Regions from separate parts of the Homo sapiens genome. Here regions 1 and 2 are each linked to region 3. Evidence: fine-mapped expression QTL. A gene starts in region 3. Each other region holds a variant in brackets. All regions are shown on one strand. Distances are between the middles of the regions.

Region 1 (5,573 bases), 37 kb before region 3:
CTCAGAGGCAGGACCCGGGGGCTCTGGGGCAGCAGGGCCCACACACCCCTCCTGCCCTTGAGCCCTCCTCTCTACCCCAGGGCCCAGGAGCTTTGGCTTGGCTCTTGTGCTGCTGATTTTAGCTGCTTCAGCCTATTTTCTTCATCTCTGCTAGAAGGCATCCTTCTAAGAAAAGCAAACCTCTTCTCCCCCAGGGCAGGCCCCCACGCCATGCTGTGCCCCTCCCACCAGCCCTCCCGTGGGCCCCCTGCCGAGTCACATGCACACCTGAGTTTGCTGAGCTCCTTTGATGCAATGTTTTGTTCAAAGCCTGTTTCTCCAAAGCGGTACTGGAGCTTCCACAGGGACAGAGGTTCTAGCTGTGTCTGTGGGGGCTGCCCACGGGAGGCCATGGGACCTTACTGAGCGTCTCGCGCTGTGCCCCTGGCCTGGTGTAGCGGCTGCCTCGCCTGCCCCACAGCAGCCCTGCAGGACCTCCCTGGCCAGGAGGGACATGGCAGGCGAGGACTGCTTATGCAGGGCCATGGTGGACAGTCCGGGGAGTGGTGGTGTCGCGTGGGGCCCAGTGGGGCCGAGCCTCCACAGAGGGGCAGTGGGAGCTGAGCCCCTCGGGCCTGTGCTGCTGGTCTCTGGGCCTCTCGTCCTCTGTCCTGAGAAGCTAGTTTGGGGAAGGATTGCTGCTGTTTATCAGAAATGCCTTCCTCCTTCTTACCAAATGATTATGCATTTATTTCTCTAAAATTTTCTTATGAAAGCTTTTCAGACGTGCAGTTGAAAGAATTCCTGGTGAACACCCTCGTTCCCACCACGAGCCTCTCACTCTGCTCGCCTGCTCCCAGCTCACCCCCCATCTCTAAACCACACTGATCTTAGAATAAAATGCAGGGAATGGTGGGACAGAGGCCGCAGAGTTGTAAAAGGGTACACCTAGTTATTCAGTTTTCTGCTTTGAAGCCTTAACTTTTATTTTACTTGTGAAATTTTGTGGAAATTGGTGTGTTTTAAAATTGTACATGTTCCATTTTCATGTAATATAAATGTAGTAGCAACGTTAAGTGGTAAAGGAGGAGAAAGCAGTAGCGCCTGAAATCTTCTGCAGCTTTCTCACGACCCGCTCCCAGATCACTGTGGTCGCCACCTCCACGCAGGTTGATTGTCGTGTGTCATGCAGAACATGCTTCTGAACTTACAGAAGAAGGCCTAGCTTCTTGCTCTTGGCATAGTACGCACGAAAGCGTAGTTTAAAGCAATGAGGTCATGTCAGCTGGAGGCCGAGCCTCTGGCCGCTCTCTCATACGATGTGTCTTCCGATGCCTGCAGGAAGGCCTGTGAGATTGAGCGTGGCAGCGGAGGAGGTCGCCACTTTTTATGGGAGGATGTTAGATCATGAATACACAACAAAGGAGGTTTTCCGGAAGAACTTCTTCAATGACTGGCGAAAGGTAGGTACCCTGGGCGGCCGCCACAGCTGTCCTGGACCTGGCTGGCTAGGCGTCTGCGGTTCTGCAGTGCTGCCTCTGAACGCCCCTCGCAAGTTCTCGGTGGCCCCTGTGTGACCACTCACAGGTGCCGTCATGGCTCTTTGCAGCTTCGAGCTCCTGGGCTCAAGCCATCCTCCTGTCTCGGCCTCCTGAGTAGCTGGGACCATAGGCGGTGCCAGTGTGTCCAGCCTAGTGCACCTCAGACCTTTCCCTTCCCAGGCAGGCTGTGGATGTGGAGGCCGATTTGTGGTCCTTACTCCATGGACCGCTGAAAGGACAGGGGTCTGGCATATAAGAAGGAGAGTAGAGGAGGCCGCATGCCATTTCCCAGCCCCCAGGAAGACATGCTTGGCGAGAAGCTCTTTGGAGGGGAGGGTGCTGCCTCAAGGCTTTTTCCTTGCTCATTTTCAAGGTGACTGCCCTTCGCCCATGGCCTGACTGATTTTATGTGTGTGCCGCGGA[T/C]TCTGTGCCCTCCGGGGTTTCTGTCTGCCCCACACCTGCGAGGCTCGCCCCTGACTGCTTGTCCCGCAGCATCTTCCTGGCTCTGGCCGGGTCGCGTTTCCTCTGTTCCGTGACTCATGCTAGTCCATTTCCCTATTCGTGGGTGTTTGATTAATTCCTGTTTTAGGCCTTTGCATGTGTAAAGCTGCCATGAACATTCCCACGTGGGTGAGGGCACATATGTGTGAGTTGCCTCTGACAGGACTTGGGGTGAAATTGCTGGGTCACGTGTGTCCAGCTTACTAGCAACACCAGGCTGAACTGTCCACACGCCTGCCGCGGGTGCGAGGCACCTTTCTAGTGGGCACAAAATGACACCTCGCCGTGGGTGTGGTTTGCGTTTCCCTAATGACAAGTGATATTAAGCATCTTTTGGTGTACTGACGTGTCATTTCAGTATTTTCTTTCGTGAACTTTTGTCTATTTAAAAAACTGAGTTGCTTGCGTATTCCTCGCTCATTTATCGGAGTTTTAAAAACGCATCCTGGGTGCAGGTTCTTTGCCAGACGCACATGCTGTGAATGTCATCTCCCAGACTTTGCCTTTTCACTTCTCAGTGAGGTCTCCAAACAGAAAACTGTAACTTAGTTATGCCGTTTATCAATCTGTCTTTTATGGTGAGTACTTTTGTGTCCTGTTTTAAGTCCATTATCAGAAATATGATTTGCAAAAATCTTTCATGGTGTTTGTAGTTTCTATTTGCGTTCTCTTAACAATGTCTTTGGAAGGTCAGGAGTTTGGAATACTGATGAGGTCCCACGTTTCATGTTTTGTCACAGGTTTGCTTTTGTTGTTTTGTCTAAGAAATCTGCTGAATTCGGCAGCACAGAGATTTCCTCCTATGTTTTTCCTAGAAGTTTTGGTTTTAGGTTTCCATTGAGGTCAGCTTGGTTTAGGTGGAACTCTGAGTTAATTTTGGTTATAGTGTGGGGTAGAGGCCGAGGCTCGTGTGTTGCATGTGGGTGTCTGACTGCCCCGAGCCAGCTGCTGGAGCCTGTGCTTCCTTGTCCCCTGTGCAGGCTCCGCTTCTGGACCCTCTTCTTTGGCCTGATGCCACCCCTCTGCCTTTCACGACAGCTTTGTGAGGTGGCACCAGCTGCCCGGCATCCTCATTCTCCCTCTGGTCAGCACTTCTTCCAGTCACTAGCAGAGCTAGGAAGGGAGGCAGTGTCACAAAGCAGCAGAACAGGAGTGGGTGGCACATCCGGCGGCCCCGGGAGACACAGGGACGGACCCTGAGCCCGTGGTTGTGGCCGAGCAGGGCTCCATCCTGGCACAGATGGTGTCGTACCTGAGCTCCTCGGAAGAGGCGGATCATCCCCATCCCACAGCGAGACACGTTTGACAGCAGCTCCTGAGGTCTCACAGGCCTAAGTGGCCGAGCCTGGACTGGGACCGTGAGCTGGTGCCCGCAAGCCTGGGCTTTTGTCCATGGGCTGTGCAGAGTTTTTGTTGTGTAGGAAACGAAAGGAGAAACAGTTGCCTGTGATCTGCGGCTCTCCCTCAGGTCAGTGTCTCCTGTTCCCGCGTCCTGGCTTTTCCTGGGCACTAGTTTTCGTGTGAGTGTGATCAGTGTGCCTGTAATGTTTTCCCCACTTAGCATTTTATCCCGCTTAGTCTCCACACGGGTAGATCATCGTCAAACTGTTTTCTGCTGTGCTTTCCAAAATTCACCTTGAAACTGAATCCCCAGCACCACAGGACAGAGGGAGGGCCTTTAGGAGCTGATTGGGCTGTGAGGACTCCACCTTGCTGCAGCCCTTAGGATTAATTTAGGGCCTTAGGGCAGGGCTGGGTGGAATTAGCTGGGCCCCTTCTGTCCTTCTGTCCCCTCCACTGTGTGAGGACAGCCTTCAGGGCATCCTCTCAGAAGCAGGGACTGGGCCCTCCATAGACGTCAAATGCTGGGACCCTGATCCCAGCCTTCCAGCCCCCAGAGCTGTGACTATGATTTACAACTGACCAGTCCCCGGTATTTTGTGGCAGCAGCACGTATGGACTGAGACTTTGCCCTCGCGAATCCCGTCACGTTCACCAGATGAGCTCCCGACCATGTATCCTGCTCTGTCCGGTCATGACGTTTCTGCAGTTGCCCTTAGTGCGGTCGTCATCCGGGTTTTCATACTGGAGAGTTTATTTAGGATGGATCTCAAAGTGGAATTATTGGGTGCAAAGGTTTTAGCCAGTTTTACTACTGACTTGTTGTGAAGTTGCTTTTGGAGAACTGTGCCCTCCGCTGCCCCACCCAACTCCATGCCTGCAATAACAGAACCAGCTCTATCTGTGGGGTCTGCGGGGAGAGGCTCTATTTACGGGGCCGCAGGACCGTGCGCAGGTTCTGCCTATTGCACACACGCCTCCGTCGGACATGGCGAGAGCGCGTTTCTGTCCGTCAGACATGGCGAGAGCGCTCTGCATGTCTGTCCTTCAGACATGGTGAGAGCGCGTGTCTGTGGTTTTTGCAGGAAATGGCGGTGGAAGAGAGGGAAGTCATCAAGAGCCTGGACAAGTGTGACTTCACGGAGATCCACAGATACTTTGTGGACAAGGCCGCAGCCCGGAAAGTCCTGAGCAGGGAGGAGAAGCAGGTTGGGCTGCCTCGAGCGTTGTGTGACCTGAAGTGGCCCCTGGGAACGAGAGGCCGGCCTGGCCCAAAGACTGAGAAAGGCCTGTGGCCTTAGAGAAGCCCCTTCTCACAAAGCTGCTCTTTTCTCGTCAGCCTTAGCGCCCCTGCATGTGCTTAAGTGTCGTTCCGCTTCCCCAGAGCACATTTGAGAGTAAACCCGGTTTGAAATGGATAATTTACCATCATTGATCAAGGGTGGGTTCCCAGACGGGCCGTGGGCTGAGGGCGGGGCTTGTGCAGGCCAGTCGGCTTCTTGCTGTTCTGTGCCATGCGTCTCCCTACATCTAACAGGAACCTGCCGTGCTGTGATCTCCATGTGGCCTTCTCAGGGATTCCCTTAGCCCTCCTCCTCCATGGCGGGCAGCCACGCTCCCTCCACCTGGCTTTACTGCTTAGGCCTAAAACAGCCGAAGTCTGTGCAGGGGCCGGGGAGTCCAGGCCATGGGGTGGTTAGGCCATGGCTCTCGGTGCCCCCTGCAAGCCCACCTGCACTGTCCCCTGCCCCTGCAACCTCCATGGATTGTGAAGGGCTTTGAGGGTCCAGCTGAGTTAGCCAGACAGAGCAGGGTGGTCCCGGGTTAGCAACAACGGACTGAGGCCTGTTCTCTTCTCTTCACTGCTAATGTCCACTGACTGTTTTATTAACTCAGAAGCTAAAAGAAGAGGCAGAAAAACTTCAGCAAGAGTTCGGCTACTGTATTTTAGATGGTCACCAAGAAAAAATAGGCAACTTCAAGATTGAGCCGCCTGGCTTGTTCCGTGGCCGTGGCGACCATCCCAAGATGGGGATGCTGAAGAGAAGGATCACGCCAGAGGATGTGGTTATCAACTGCAGCAGGTGCGTGGCCGGGCGGGCAGCAGGCGGGCACTGGACCCCCGCCACCCGGGTGAGGCTGGCTTTTCTTCACCTCCTGGGAGAGGGAGGCACACCGAGAAACATGTGGTTGGTGACCCCCACACCATTC
Region 2 (6,132 bases), 36 kb after region 3:
CTGCGTTGTTCAGGCTGGTCTTGAACTCCTGTTTTGGCCATTTTTCTATTTAGATATTTGTCTTTAAAAATCCTGGTTCCTATGAATGCTGCACATATTCTGAACATTTGTCATTTGTTGCTACAGTGGTCAGGGTAAGTAACGGTGGCTGGGATAACGAAGAACCTCCGCATGTCAGCGTCTGGCTCAGGAGGCCTCCCCTTCTTGCTCACACCATGACAGGGTCTTGAGGCTCTCCCGAGGGTGACTCCAGGACATGGCTCCTTCTCTTGGTGTGTGGCTCTGCCATCTCTGAGTCCTTCTCTCTCAGTCACAGGAAGGGAGGACAGCAGATGATTACAGGGAAGATTTCAGGAGGCCAGGCCTGGAAGAGGCGTCCATCACTCCTGCTCACGTCTGCAGAACAGAATGCAGTGATACAATCCCAGTTCACTGAAGTGTCAACCTCCTGGGCTCAACTGATCCTCCTACCTTAGCCTCCCGAGTATATGGGACCACAGGCGCACGCCACCATACCTAATTTTTAATTTTTATTAGAAATGAAATCTCACTCTGTTGCCCAGGCTGGTCTCAAACTCCTGAGCTCAATCGATCCTCCCACCTCAGTCTCCCAATGTGCTGGGATGACAGGAATGAGCCACCGTGCCTGGCCTGCAAGTGCTTAGTACCTTTGTTCATGTATATGTGTATGAGTGACACTGAACTGTAATTTTGATATCCAGATTACACTCACTTCAGAAAATAACACAGGGTGTGTTTCTTGTCTGTCTCCGAGTCTGGGTAAAACTGGAGCTGTTTCTTGAACTCACGTGCAAAGCACCTGGACTTGGTGTTCTTTGGCAAGACTGAGAATCATCCACACAATCTCTGTCATGGCGATGGATTCTGTGTGCGTGTCTCCTCGAGCTGGGCTGCCACGTGACTTTCCTCCTGATGGTCGAACCGTTTTGGTGGAGTTCTCTTTGTCAGCACAGGCTTTTCTCACCTTTTCAGCATCGGATGTGGCTGAACTGTCTTCCTTTCTCATTCCTGATGGGTGATTTGCTCCTTTTTTCTTAGTCATTTTGCCAGAGGATGTCAATTTTAATAGTCCTTTCAAAGAACCAACTCTTAGCTCTTTTGTCCTCTCAATGGTGTCTGTTTCCATTAATTGTATTAATAAGTGGCTTTATTTACTTATTTATGTATTTATTTTTTTGAGACAGAGTTTCACTTTTATTGCCTGAGCTGGAGTGCAATGGCGTGATCTTGGCTCACTGCAACCTCCGCCTCCTGGGTTCAAGCAATTCTCCTGCCTCAGCCTCCCAAGTAGCTAGGAATACAGGCATGCGCCACCACACCCAGCTAATTTTCTTCTGTATTTTTAGTAGAAATGGGGTTTCACCATGTTAGCCATGACTTGTCTTGAACTCCTGTCCTCAGGTGATCTGCCTGCCTTGGCCTCCCAAAGTGCTGGGATTATAGGCGTGAGCCACCGTGCCTGGCCTGGGCCTTTCTTCTTCTAACTGTTACACTGGGTGCTTCCCTCCTGACTTCCAGCTCCTCTCCTGACTTCCAGCTCCTCTCCTAACAGCAACAGAAGCACACAGGGTTGGATACTGCCCTTGGCTCCCACTGCCATCAGGTGCTCTGTTAAGTCATATGATCACTGAATTTTAAGTGTCTTATCTTTCACCTGGGTCATGTAGGTTTTCTCTTCCTGCAATAAGAGCTTCTTTTAAACAAGACACCGAAGCAGAGGTCAGCCTAGACGGCCTCCGGCTTCAGCTCTTGGTCTTGCTATGACATCAGGAATTCATCTGTCTGTGCCTCCGGCTTCAGCTCTTGGTCCTGCTGTGACGTCAGGAGTTCGTCTGTCTGTGCCAAATGATAGGGACAAAAAAGATGGCAGACTGGTTTTGTTTTGGTTATGCAATTTTTCTCATAACCATAAACGTTAAAAAAAATTTCCAAGTGGATTTAAAAAAATGTATCTTTTATTTTTGAGACAGGGTCTTGCTCTGTCATCCAAGCAGGTCTTGAACTCCTGGCCTCAAGTGATCCTCCTGCCTCGGCCTTCCAAAGCACTGGGATTACAGATGTGAGTCACCACATCTGGCCCCAAAAATGTATCTTTTGTTGTTTTCCATGCCGATTTTGTTGAAGCCAGCTCTCTCATCTTTTCCTTGGAGAAGTATCCAAGGCAGTCAGTTTGCATGGCCCCCATTTCGTGTGTGAACCAATATCTGATCTCACTAACACCAGCATGTGGGGCGAGCCCTGATCTCACTAACACCAGCACGCGGGGCGAGCCCTGATCTCACTAACTCCAGCACGCGGGGCGAGCCCTGATCTCACTAACTCCAGCACGCGGGGTGAGCCCTGATCTCACTAACACCAGCACGCGGGGCGAGCCCTGATCTCACTAACACCAGCACGCGGGGCGAGCCGTGATCTCACTAACACCAGCACGCGGGGCGAGCCCTGATCTCACTAACTCCAGCACGCGGGGCGAGCCCTGATCTCACTAACACCAGCACGCGGGGCGAGCCCTGATCTCACTAACACCAGCACGCGGGGCGAGCCGTGATCTCACTAACACCAGCACGCGGGGCGAGCCCTGATCTCACTAACACCAGCACGCGGGGTGAGCCCTGATCTCAAGAACACCAGCACGCGGGGTGAGCCCTGATCTCACTAACACCAGCACGCGGGGCGAGCCCTGATCTCACTAACTCTAGCACGCGGGGAGAGCCCTGATCTCACTAACACCAGCACGCGGGGCGAGCCGTGATCTCACTAACACCAGCACGCGGGGCGAGCCCTGATCTCACTAACACCAGCACGCGGGGCGAGCCCTGATCTCAAGAACACCAGCACGCGGGGCGAGCCCTGATCTCACTAACACCAGCACGCGGGGCGAGCCCTGATCTCACTAACTCTAGCACGCGGGGAGAGCCCTGATCTCACTAACACCAGCACGCGGGGTGAGCCGTGATCTCACTAACACCAGCACGCGGGGCGAGCCCTGATCTCACTAACTCCAGCACGTGGGGCGAGCCCTGATCTCACTAACACCAGCACGCGGGGTGAGCTCTGATCTCACTAACACTAGACGCGGGGCGAGCCCTGATCTCAAGAACACCAGCACGCGGGGCGAGCCCTGATCTCACTAACTCCAGCACGTGGGGCGAGCCCTGATCTCACTAACACCAGCACGCGGGGTGAGCTCTGATCTCACTAACACTAGACGCGGGGTGAGCCCTGATCTCAAGAACACCAGCACGCGGGGCGAGCTCTGATCTCACTAACACCAGACACGGGGCGAGCTGACACGGTCACACAGTTCGTAGGATCCAGCAGTGTGCTTACGACGTCACGTATTACGGTTCTTGTTCTTGGCAACCCTGTGGGGTTAAGCACTGTCAGCATCGCCATTTCACACCTGGGAAAACTGAGGCAAAGGCCCCACAGTTCCAGAGTGAGGGTCAAGTCCACAGCCCCTGACTTGAGAGCTATGCTCTTGACCCACTACGTGCGTCCTAGAAATCAAAGACATCAGATTAAAGTGTGAGTTTAGGATCAGGAACCCACCTGCCTGCTGCTAGAGAGGCTGAGGTGGTCCTGCCAGCCATGCGCTGCTGCAGGCGTCTCTGTGGGCATGACCTGGGGCTGGCATTTGGTGAGATGTCAATCCACACCTGGGAATCCGTCCTATTGGCCCTAAATATGGAAAAGATATTTATTGTGGCATTATTTATAATAACCTAGGTTGGAAACAGCCCACATGCCCATGCTGGGAAGTGGATAAGTCACCTGTGCCTTTTCGATTCAACTGGTCATTGTGCAGGCATTAAAAGTAATGCTTCCTTCCTGGCCAACATGGTGAAACCCCGTCTCTACTAAAAATACAAAAATTAGCTGGGCGTGGTGGTGCGTGCCTGAAATCCCAGCTACTCGGGATGCTGAAGCAGGGGAATCGCTTGACC[G/A]CGGGAGGTGGAGGTTGTGGTGAGCTGAGATCGTGCCACTGCACTCCAGCCTGGCAACAGAATGAGACTCTGTCTCAAAAAAAAAAAAAAAAAAAAAGTAACGCTCCCTATTGTCAGTAACGGGGAAAAGCAACGATCATACTATCATAAGTAAAATCAAACCAAATGCAGACACCACCAGGGAATGCGTGCCCGTCTCCTGGGCCATCCTAGACAGCCGTGTCCACACTTGCCACCCTCTGTGGCACATCCCGACAGACAGCAGAGGATGCCTGCTCTGAGCAGCTCCCTGTCCCGCCCCCTGGTTTCTTTCTTGTGTCCGAGTTCCTGACTCCTGACGCCGGCTCTTCCCTGCCAACAGCTAATTCTGAAGGACACTAAGACACAGAGAGCGTGTGCAAGGACTGGGAGTTGTGTTAGTTCATTGTGTGTTACTATAAAGGAACACCCGAGGCTGGGTAAGTTTTTGTAACGAGGTTTACGTGGCTGGCGGTTCTGCAGGCTGCACAGGTATCTGCTTGGCTTCTGGTGAGGCTGCAGGGAGGGAGCAAGAGACGGGAGGAGGCACCAGGCTCTTTAATGCAGGAGTCCCTGACCTCAAGACGGGTCCATGGCCTGTTAGAAGTGGGTCACACAGCAGGAGGTGGGTGGCAGGCGAGTGAGCGTTACCGCCTAAGCTCCGCCTCCTGTCAGATCAGCGGTGGCATTAGATTCTCACTGGACCACGAACCCCACCGTGAACTGCATGCGAGGGATCTAGGTTGCACGCTCCTTATGAGAATCAAATGCCTGATGATCTGAGGTGGGACAGTTTCATACTCAAACCATCCACACCACTCCCTGTCCACGGAAAAAACTGGTCCCAGGTGCCAAGAAGGTTGGGGACCACTGCTTTAAACAACAAGCTCTCCAGTGAACCTCAAGAGTGAGAGCTCACTCATTACTGTGAGGAGGGCACCAAGCCATTCTCGAGGGATCTGTCCCCGTGACCCGAATACCTCCTGCCAGGCCCCTTCCCACACTGGGGATCACATTTCCACATAAGATCTGGAGGGGACAGACGTCCAAACTATACCAGGAGCTCGAATGCACCCTTCACCTAGGACAGGATCGGCAAGCAAATCCGGCCCACCTCCTACGTTTGTAAATAAAGTTTTATTGGCACAGCCACGCTCGTTCATTCATATGCCATTGACATCTGCTGTTGCCCTACACAGCAGGGTGGGGACCTGCTCTTCACGGGAGAGCTAGTTGTTTAAAGCAGTGGTCCCCAACCTTCTGTGGTCCCCCGTGGGTGCTGAGGCACAGGCTGTATGGCTGCAGTGCCAAGAATATTTCCTGCCTGACCCTTCATCGGAGAAGCGTGCCCACCTGTGCTCTAGATTCCCCATGACTGACATTTAGCCACTCTCCTCTGTCACTCTCCGGGGACGTGCACACACCGTTGGCATGAACTGCAGACGCCACGCTCTGCGGCCAAGAGCCTCAGTGTGCATCTGCAGTAGGAGGACGTCAGTGAGGACCGCCCCGTCCCTGCTGCGCTGGTGCTGACTGTGCCTGCAGTTGACTGTGCCTGCAGTTGACTGTGCCTGGAGTCTACAATCCAGGTCGGCCAAACGTCCCAGCAAAGTCCTTCAAAGCAACTCTTCCGATCCAGGATCACACGTCACACGTGCTCTGATGCCTGCTTCTGAACAATTCACCTCCTGATATGTCCATTTCTGGGAGTGCGAGTATTCCTCTCCTGGTGACAGCTGGCTGAGGCCGTCCAGCCTCAGGACATACCGGGAACGGCTGCATAAGGAGATCCGGGCCAGGGGGCCCACCAGGATGTCCTGCCCTGTGGGGGTCAACACTGGCCGTGGTCCGCCGGCGGCATCCAGGGACAGTCTATCTAGGTGAGGCTGAGGCTGCCCGCCCCCTCGCTCCCTCACCCCCTCACCCCCATGCTGACGGCAGTGGGCTGACCACAGCCCCGGGGAGCCCCACGGGAAGACTGGCCTCCCCAGCACACGCCCAATAGTGTGAGACACAGTCATCACAGAGGCAGGTACACGACACCACGGGACTTGCCACCTACCTACCCCCATTGGGACCACGGGCCATTGAGAAGCCACGAAGGCCGTGCTTCCAGCAGCGACTGAGGCGGCAGGACCATCAGGAG
Region 3 (6,240 bases):
CTTGTCTGGCAGTCAAGCCACTGGTTAGATTTGGTTCCACTGGCTCACAGGGACAGACCATGTGGCCATTTAGAAAAAAGGCTTAAGGGGTAGGGGTGAAACCCTGGGACATGAGAAAGCTGGCAACTGAGCTTGGCCTGCATAGGAGGCAGGAGGACTCAGCCAGGAGGGGCAGCAGGAGGAGGGGGGCCAACGAGGCCAGCACAGCAACTGAGGAGGACTTCTCAGTCTGCAGGCAGTCCGCTGTGGCAGCAGAGGAGAAGCGGCTGAGTCCCAGCTGCACCTCTCAAGAATGTGGAGGGCGCAGATAAGACGGAAGCTCCTGTGGAGGTGGGGGTGGGGCAGGGATGTTCCAGGGCAGATGAGAGCAGGCTGCTATCGACAGTCCCCACCTCTCTCTGCCCTTGCAGACCCCTGACACTGAGCAGCCAGGGGGCGGGAGGCGCTCAGGGCGGCCTGCAGAACAGAAGCCCCTTGGCAGAGGCCCAGCCCTGGTCTTGTGGTTTGCAGACTTGGAAGTTCAAGAACTGACTCAAAGGTATTGCTTATGAGGAAAAAGAACCAAGACTATGGTGAGAAGGGGACACATACGTGGTGGAGCTCTACTGGATCCAGCCTGCAGGCCCCAAGGACGCCTTTCCGATGGAGGCAATCCCAGACCTCACAGCAGGGCCTGCACTGCCCACGCCATCTCCCGGGCTGTTGCTGTGACACACTCTCAGGGTGGCCCCAAAACATAAAGCAGTGTTCTCATGGGGGCGATTTTGTCCTGAGGGCACATTTGACAATGTGTGGAGATGTTTTGGATTGTCACAACTGGGAGGGGGCCCTACTGACACCAAGTGGGCAGAGGCGAGGGTGCTGCCGAACGTCCTACAACACACAGGATGGCCCCTCAACAAAGACTCGTCCATTCCAAAACAGCCACGGTGCCAAGGTGGAGAAGCACTGAGAGAGAGACCTTCCCAGAGGCAGAGCCTGGGGCTGCCAGACTTTCTAACCAAAAGCTCTCAGTTCACTGGCAAAGACAGTCACCAAACAGATGCCCAGGAGATCTGATGGGCCTGCGTTTACCTCCCTCCCTCACCCTGCGCCCAAGGACACAGTATATGCTCTGCGTCAGTGACTGAGACATGGTGTTTTTCCTGTATTCCTGTTCAATTCCTGCCCTGGAACTCTGGGCCCGACTGTGGACATGTCCCCTCACCTGCAAGGGACTCCATCAGGGTACTGCTCTCTTTAGCACCTGTGGGCTCTCCTCCTGGCTCCATCTTGCAGAACACCAGCAGTTGGAACAATTTCTGCTTAGGTAAAAGAAAAGGAAAATAAATCACAGCCAGGGCTAGGTACAGGGGCCAGGGGCAGTGAGGTCAGAATGCCTTCAGAGGAAACTGTCAGAACAGGCCCTGTGGGAGCTGCATCACCCAGCTGGGCCCACTCCTGTCACTAGCAATCAAGGTCCTGGCTCAACAGACACTCCCAGAAGCGGGTGTTCTGTTCTGTGGGATGCCCAGGAACTCTGGTCCAGGCTCTGCGGGTCCCCCTCCACCCAGGGCTGACGCAGAGCACAGGTGGGCGTGGCCACAGCTTCCTAGCTCCATGCTGAGGAAGCCCGCGCCCTCCAGCAGTCTTCAAATGTCTAGAGAAATTCCCATGGGTTTTAAAATTTTCTTGGTAGTTATAAGGATTTGAATATAAAAATGTTAAACCAGAAGAAAAGAACAACTTATTTGAATGGTAAAGTTTTGGAATGAGGAATGATTTTTCTAAGCCTGACATCAGATGTCTGACAAATTCAACTACATAAAAAAATTTAATGTAAAAAAAAAAAACCAAAAAGGGAGGAATACGTGCAATGCAAAGATTCATCCCTATCTGATAAAGACCTCTATATATTAATGAGAAAGGAAGGAAAATTGGCAAAGATCATGAATAGGTAACTCACAAAGAAGAAAAACCAGTAGGCAATACATTTTTTTAGGTCTCACCTCAAGTGCAATTAAGAAATGTAATTTGGCTGGGTGCTGTGGCTCACAGTTGTAATCCTAGCACTTCAAAAGGCTCAGGATGGAGGACTGACTGATTACAAGAGTTCCTGACCAGCCTGGGCAACATAGTGAGACCCCGTCTCTACAAAAAATCAAAAAATTAGCCAGGTGTGATGGTGGGCGTCTGTAGTCCCAGCTACTAGGGAGGCTGAGGTGGGAGGACTGCCTGAGCCCAGGAGGTCTAGGCTGGGGTGAACCGAGATTTCGCCACTGCACTCCAGCTGGGCGTTGGAGTGAGACCCTGTCTTAAAAAAATAAGTAAATAAAGTGATTAATTAGTAAATTTAATTTAAGCCGCCTGTAATCCCGCCTGCCAGGGAGGCTGAGCGGGAGGATCGCTTGAGCCCAGGAGTAGGAGGCCAGCCTGGGAAACATAGCGAGACCCCGCCGCTTTTACAAAAAGGTAATTTAAAGTGCAATTTTTTAGTCTGGAAGCAGATTTTTGCAAGTACCTTACCGGCAAGAATTAGGGAACAGGCCCTCCTGTTCACAGCTGGGAAGAAGCTCGATGAGCTGGGCCGGTGGGAAATTTGACAACTTACAAAGGCCTGAAGACGCGCAGCGGGGACTCAGCTCGCAGGAAGCCCCGCACGTGTCGGACCCCGGGTACGCACCTGCAGGGCCGCCTCCCCCACGCCGCGCCCGAGAGCGGCTGGGGCCTGCACTGCAAGGAGAGCGCGGGACGCGCGGGCCACGGCGGCGGTGACCGCCCCGTTCTCTCGGCCGCGCCCTCAGCCCTCCCGAATCGACACCCCAGCAAGAGAAGCCGGGGCCTCAGCGTCCAGAGCAGCTGGACTGCACCCGCTACGGTCCCCGCCCCGTCGCGCGCCGGAAACGCCAGTCTCCACCCCTGGCCCGCCCCCTCGGCACTTCCGGCGACGCTCTGGGCAGCGGGAGGACAGCGCGCTCGGCGGCGGGAGAGCGGGACGGCCCAGCCGCGGCGCCTTCAGCTCATCGGTTGCCCGCAGGCGCCGGCCGAGTCCTTCCTGCCGGGCAGGAAGCCCTGCCTCGTGGGGGGCAAGGTCGAGCCGTTGGCGCGCCGGGATCCGGCTCGAGCCAACTGAGGACCGGGCACCCGCAGGACGTGTCAGGAGGTGTCGAAGGCCCGCTGTGGGGCGGCCACGCGCGTTCCCGTCCGTTCCCCGCGGCGTCCCGCGCTTGTCCCGGGTCCCGCTCGGCTCACGGGACCCTCCAGGCCCCCGGGGCTGTGGCAGCACGCGGGTCCCGAGCGTGGGCTTCCTTGGGGCCGAGAGCTTGGAGCGCCCCAGGCGCTGCCCCCCGCCTCCCTGCAGGACGCCGCCCTCGCGTCTCCGCTGCAGAGAAGCCCTTGCTGCCCGCCTCTCGCGGGCTCTGGGCTCTTTCTCACCAGGGACCGAGCTCTCATTCGTTCAGCCTTCCCCGGGCAAGATGCACCTCCTGTCCAAGTCTCTCGCCCTTCCGCCTGCCGCAGACCGAAGGTCACGCATCTCCAGCTGGAATGCTGCAAAAGTGACGCTTTTCATCATGGGTGCAAAGTGTACAGCTGCAATGTGGACTTGTTCCCTCTTACAACGAGTAGACAGACCCTCTCTGGGGAGAAAAGAAAGGCTGAAGAACCGATTCCCATGAGAGAACCCTAAGAAGACAGCAACAGAGGGCCAGACGCGCCCCTGGAACTGGACCCTGGACTGGGGCGGGAGGGCCACAGCCTTGGGAGCCCAGGTCCCTGCCCGCGCCTCCGACAGTCCCGCGCCGCCGCCACCCGGCATCTGCCTCTGGGCCTCCACATCTCGTGCCTGGAACCGCGTTCATTGCGCACTGCACCAGTAAACACCTGAACACTCCCACCACATGCTGCACGTTTATTTGTAACAAATTAGAAGCTGTTGTAAAAGATAAAAATTAAAACACTTAGACTGGGTGGGCGAGAGGCTCATGAATGTAATCCCAGCACTTTGGGAGGCCAAGGCAGGAGGATTGTTTGAGTCCAGGAGTTTCAGACCAGCCTGAGCAACATAGTTAGAACCGTGTCGACTAAAAATTTTTTTTAAAAATTAGCCGGGCGTGGTGGCCGGCGCCTGTGGTACCAGCTACTCGGGAGGCTGAGGCGGGGGGACCACTTGAGCTCGGGAGGCGGAGGCTGCAGTGAGCCGAGATTGGCACTGCACTCCAGCCTGGGTGACAGAGATTCTGTCGCAAAACAAAAACAACAACAACAACACACACCACACACACACACATCTAAAAGAGATGATGTAGAAGTACAAGTAACCGTTTCCCTCTGCATCCCAGTGGAACGTCGTGGGTCTTCTGAAGACCCTCTCTTGCCCTGCAGGCTCCGGTACTCCAAGCACGCGAGTCTGCGCAGGAGGCGCTTCGCTCTCCGGAGCTCCCCACTGCCTCCTAGACACAGTCCCGGCTCCTTACCCCGGGCGGAGGCTCTTCCAGACGGGTCCCGACTGCCTCTGTATGCCCACTGCTGCCGTGCCAGAAGCCACTGCCCTCTCCTCGCCCCTTTCCAAATGTGCCCTGCCTCAGGCCCGTGTCATGCTGTTCCCTGTGCCGCTTTCGCCCGTCCCCTCACTCCCCGCCACCAGAACCGGGAAGGCGGTGCCCCCTTTCCAGGCCCAACTTCCGGCACTGAACCTCTAGGAGTCCGCAGCCTCCTCCGCCCGGGCCTCTCCCCGCTGGCTCAGACCGCAGGGCCAGCAGCCCCGCCCACACGGAAGCCCCGCCCATCAGGCCGACCCCGCCCCTCCTGCCTCGGCCCCGCCCTCGCCTTGGCCCCGCCTCCTCGCTGGCAGCCGGCAGGCGCAGTCGGGGTCGTGGGACCCAGGAGGGGCCTCCAGCAGGTGCCTTGGCGAAGATCCTGGACTGCGTCACAGCCCAGGGTAGCCGTCCCGCGGCCCGGCTTTGGAGCTTCCCACGGACACCCGGGGCTCTGCCTCCTCCGAAATCACCCCTCACCGCTTCCCTCCTGCTCTCCCACAATGGGAGGCCACACGCTGGGGCCCCTGAGAAACAGAATCGAAAACACAAGGCAGGACTCCAGGGACATGGGGGTGGGGGAGTGAATCCAAGCAACTCAGGACGCCCGCGAATAGCTCAGATCCTGCGAAGAGCCCGCGCCCTGGAATTCTGTTTGCTAAGGGGGTCCTCACGGTGTAGGGTGAGACAGAGAACCTCTGGGCAGTTGCAGGTGGTAAATGTCCATGATAAAGGGCAAGTTCACAGTCTAGAAAATTCTGGATTTCTTGATCCAAAAGTAGCCGAGTCCAGGCCGGAGAGGTGGCTCACGCCTGTAATCCCAGCACTCTGGGAGGCCAAGACAGGAGGATCACTCGAGGTCAGGAGTTCGAGACCAGCCTGGCCAACATAGTGAAACCCCATCTCCACCAAAAAAAAAATTACAAAAAATTAGCCAGGCATGTTGGTGCTTGCCTTAGTCCCAGCTACTCGGGAGGCTGGGGCAGGAGAATTGCTTGAATCCAGGAGGCGGAGGTTGCAGTAAGATTTCGCCACTGCACTCCACAGTGAGACTCCGTCTCAAAAAAAAAAAAAAAAAAAAAAAAAAAAAAAAAGTAGCTGAGTCTTAGAATACCACCCCTTCAAGGACTGTTTCCATGAGCCTATCCACTGAGTCTCTTACCTGCTACCCTGAAAAAAAAAAGTACGATGAAGAAATTACCAAAGGCACCCCTGAAAAACAAAGACAGCTGGGCCTGGCGCAGTGGCTCACTCCTGTCATCCCAGCACGTTGGGAGGCCGAGGCGGGTGGATCACCTGAGGTCAGGGGTTTGAGACCAGCCTGGCCAACACGGTGAAATTCCATCTCTACTAAAACTACAAAAATTAGCCGGGAGTGGTGGTGTTCGCCTGTAATCCCAGGTACTCGGGAGGCTGAGGCAGGAGAATCACTTGAGCCCGGGAGGTGGAGATTGCAGTGAGCTGAGATCACGCCATTGCACTCCAGCTTGGGTGACAGAGTGAGACCTGTGGGGAAAAGCAAGAGAGATCAGATTGTTACTGTGTCTGTGTAGAAAGAAGTAGACATAGGAGACACCATTTTGTTCTGTACTAAGAAAAATTCTTCTGCCTTGAGATTCTGTTAATCTATGACCTTACCCCCAACCCCGTGCTCTCTGAAACATGTGCTGTGTCAACTCAGGGTGAAATGGATTAAGGGCTGTGCAGGATGTGCTTTGTTAAACAG

Which allele goes with the higher level. Alleles are on the strand shown, and positions count from the first base shown. SD is a standard deviation of normalised expression in the study named. Not every link is listed here.
As copies of C replace T in region 1, the expression in hippocampus of the gene that starts at base 2,856 in region 3 goes down (moderate effect, 0.51 SD a copy in GTEx).

What was found. PIP is the estimated chance that this variant, and not a neighbour inherited with it, causes the effect.
Region 1: its variant is fine-mapped to the expression of ZNF696 in hippocampus (GTEx, PIP above 0.99). The same link has a PIP of 0.9 or more in cerebral cortex.
Region 2: its variant is fine-mapped to the expression of ZNF696 in whole blood (TOPMed, PIP above 0.99).

The regions. Positions count from the first base shown.
Region 1 is chr8:143,325,219-143,330,791 of GRCh38, reverse strand. It overlaps TOP1MT (DNA topoisomerase I mitochondrial), which reads left to right. Exons shown (of 14, transcript NM_052963.3): 3 at 1,321-1,442; 4 at 4,448-4,570; 5 at 5,259-5,446. Among named protein-coding and RNA genes, the nearest start is that of TOP1MT, 6.9 kb to the left of the region's middle. The variant T/C (reference allele first, on the strand shown) is at 1,944.
Region 2 is chr8:143,252,564-143,258,695 of GRCh38, reverse strand. All of the region lies in intron 2 of ZFP41 (ZFP41 zinc finger protein), which reads right to left. Among named protein-coding and RNA genes, the nearest start is that of ZFP41, 8.7 kb to the right of the region's middle. The variant G/A (reference allele first, on the strand shown) is at 3,969.
Region 3 is chr8:143,288,033-143,294,272 of GRCh38, reverse strand. It overlaps ZNF696 (zinc finger protein 696), which reads right to left and starts at 2,856. Exons shown (of 3, transcript NM_030895.3): 1 at 2,506-2,856; 2 at 1,208-1,301. The coding sequence starts at 1,271. RefSeq lists a silencer at 2,602-3,321 and an enhancer at 2,792-3,367.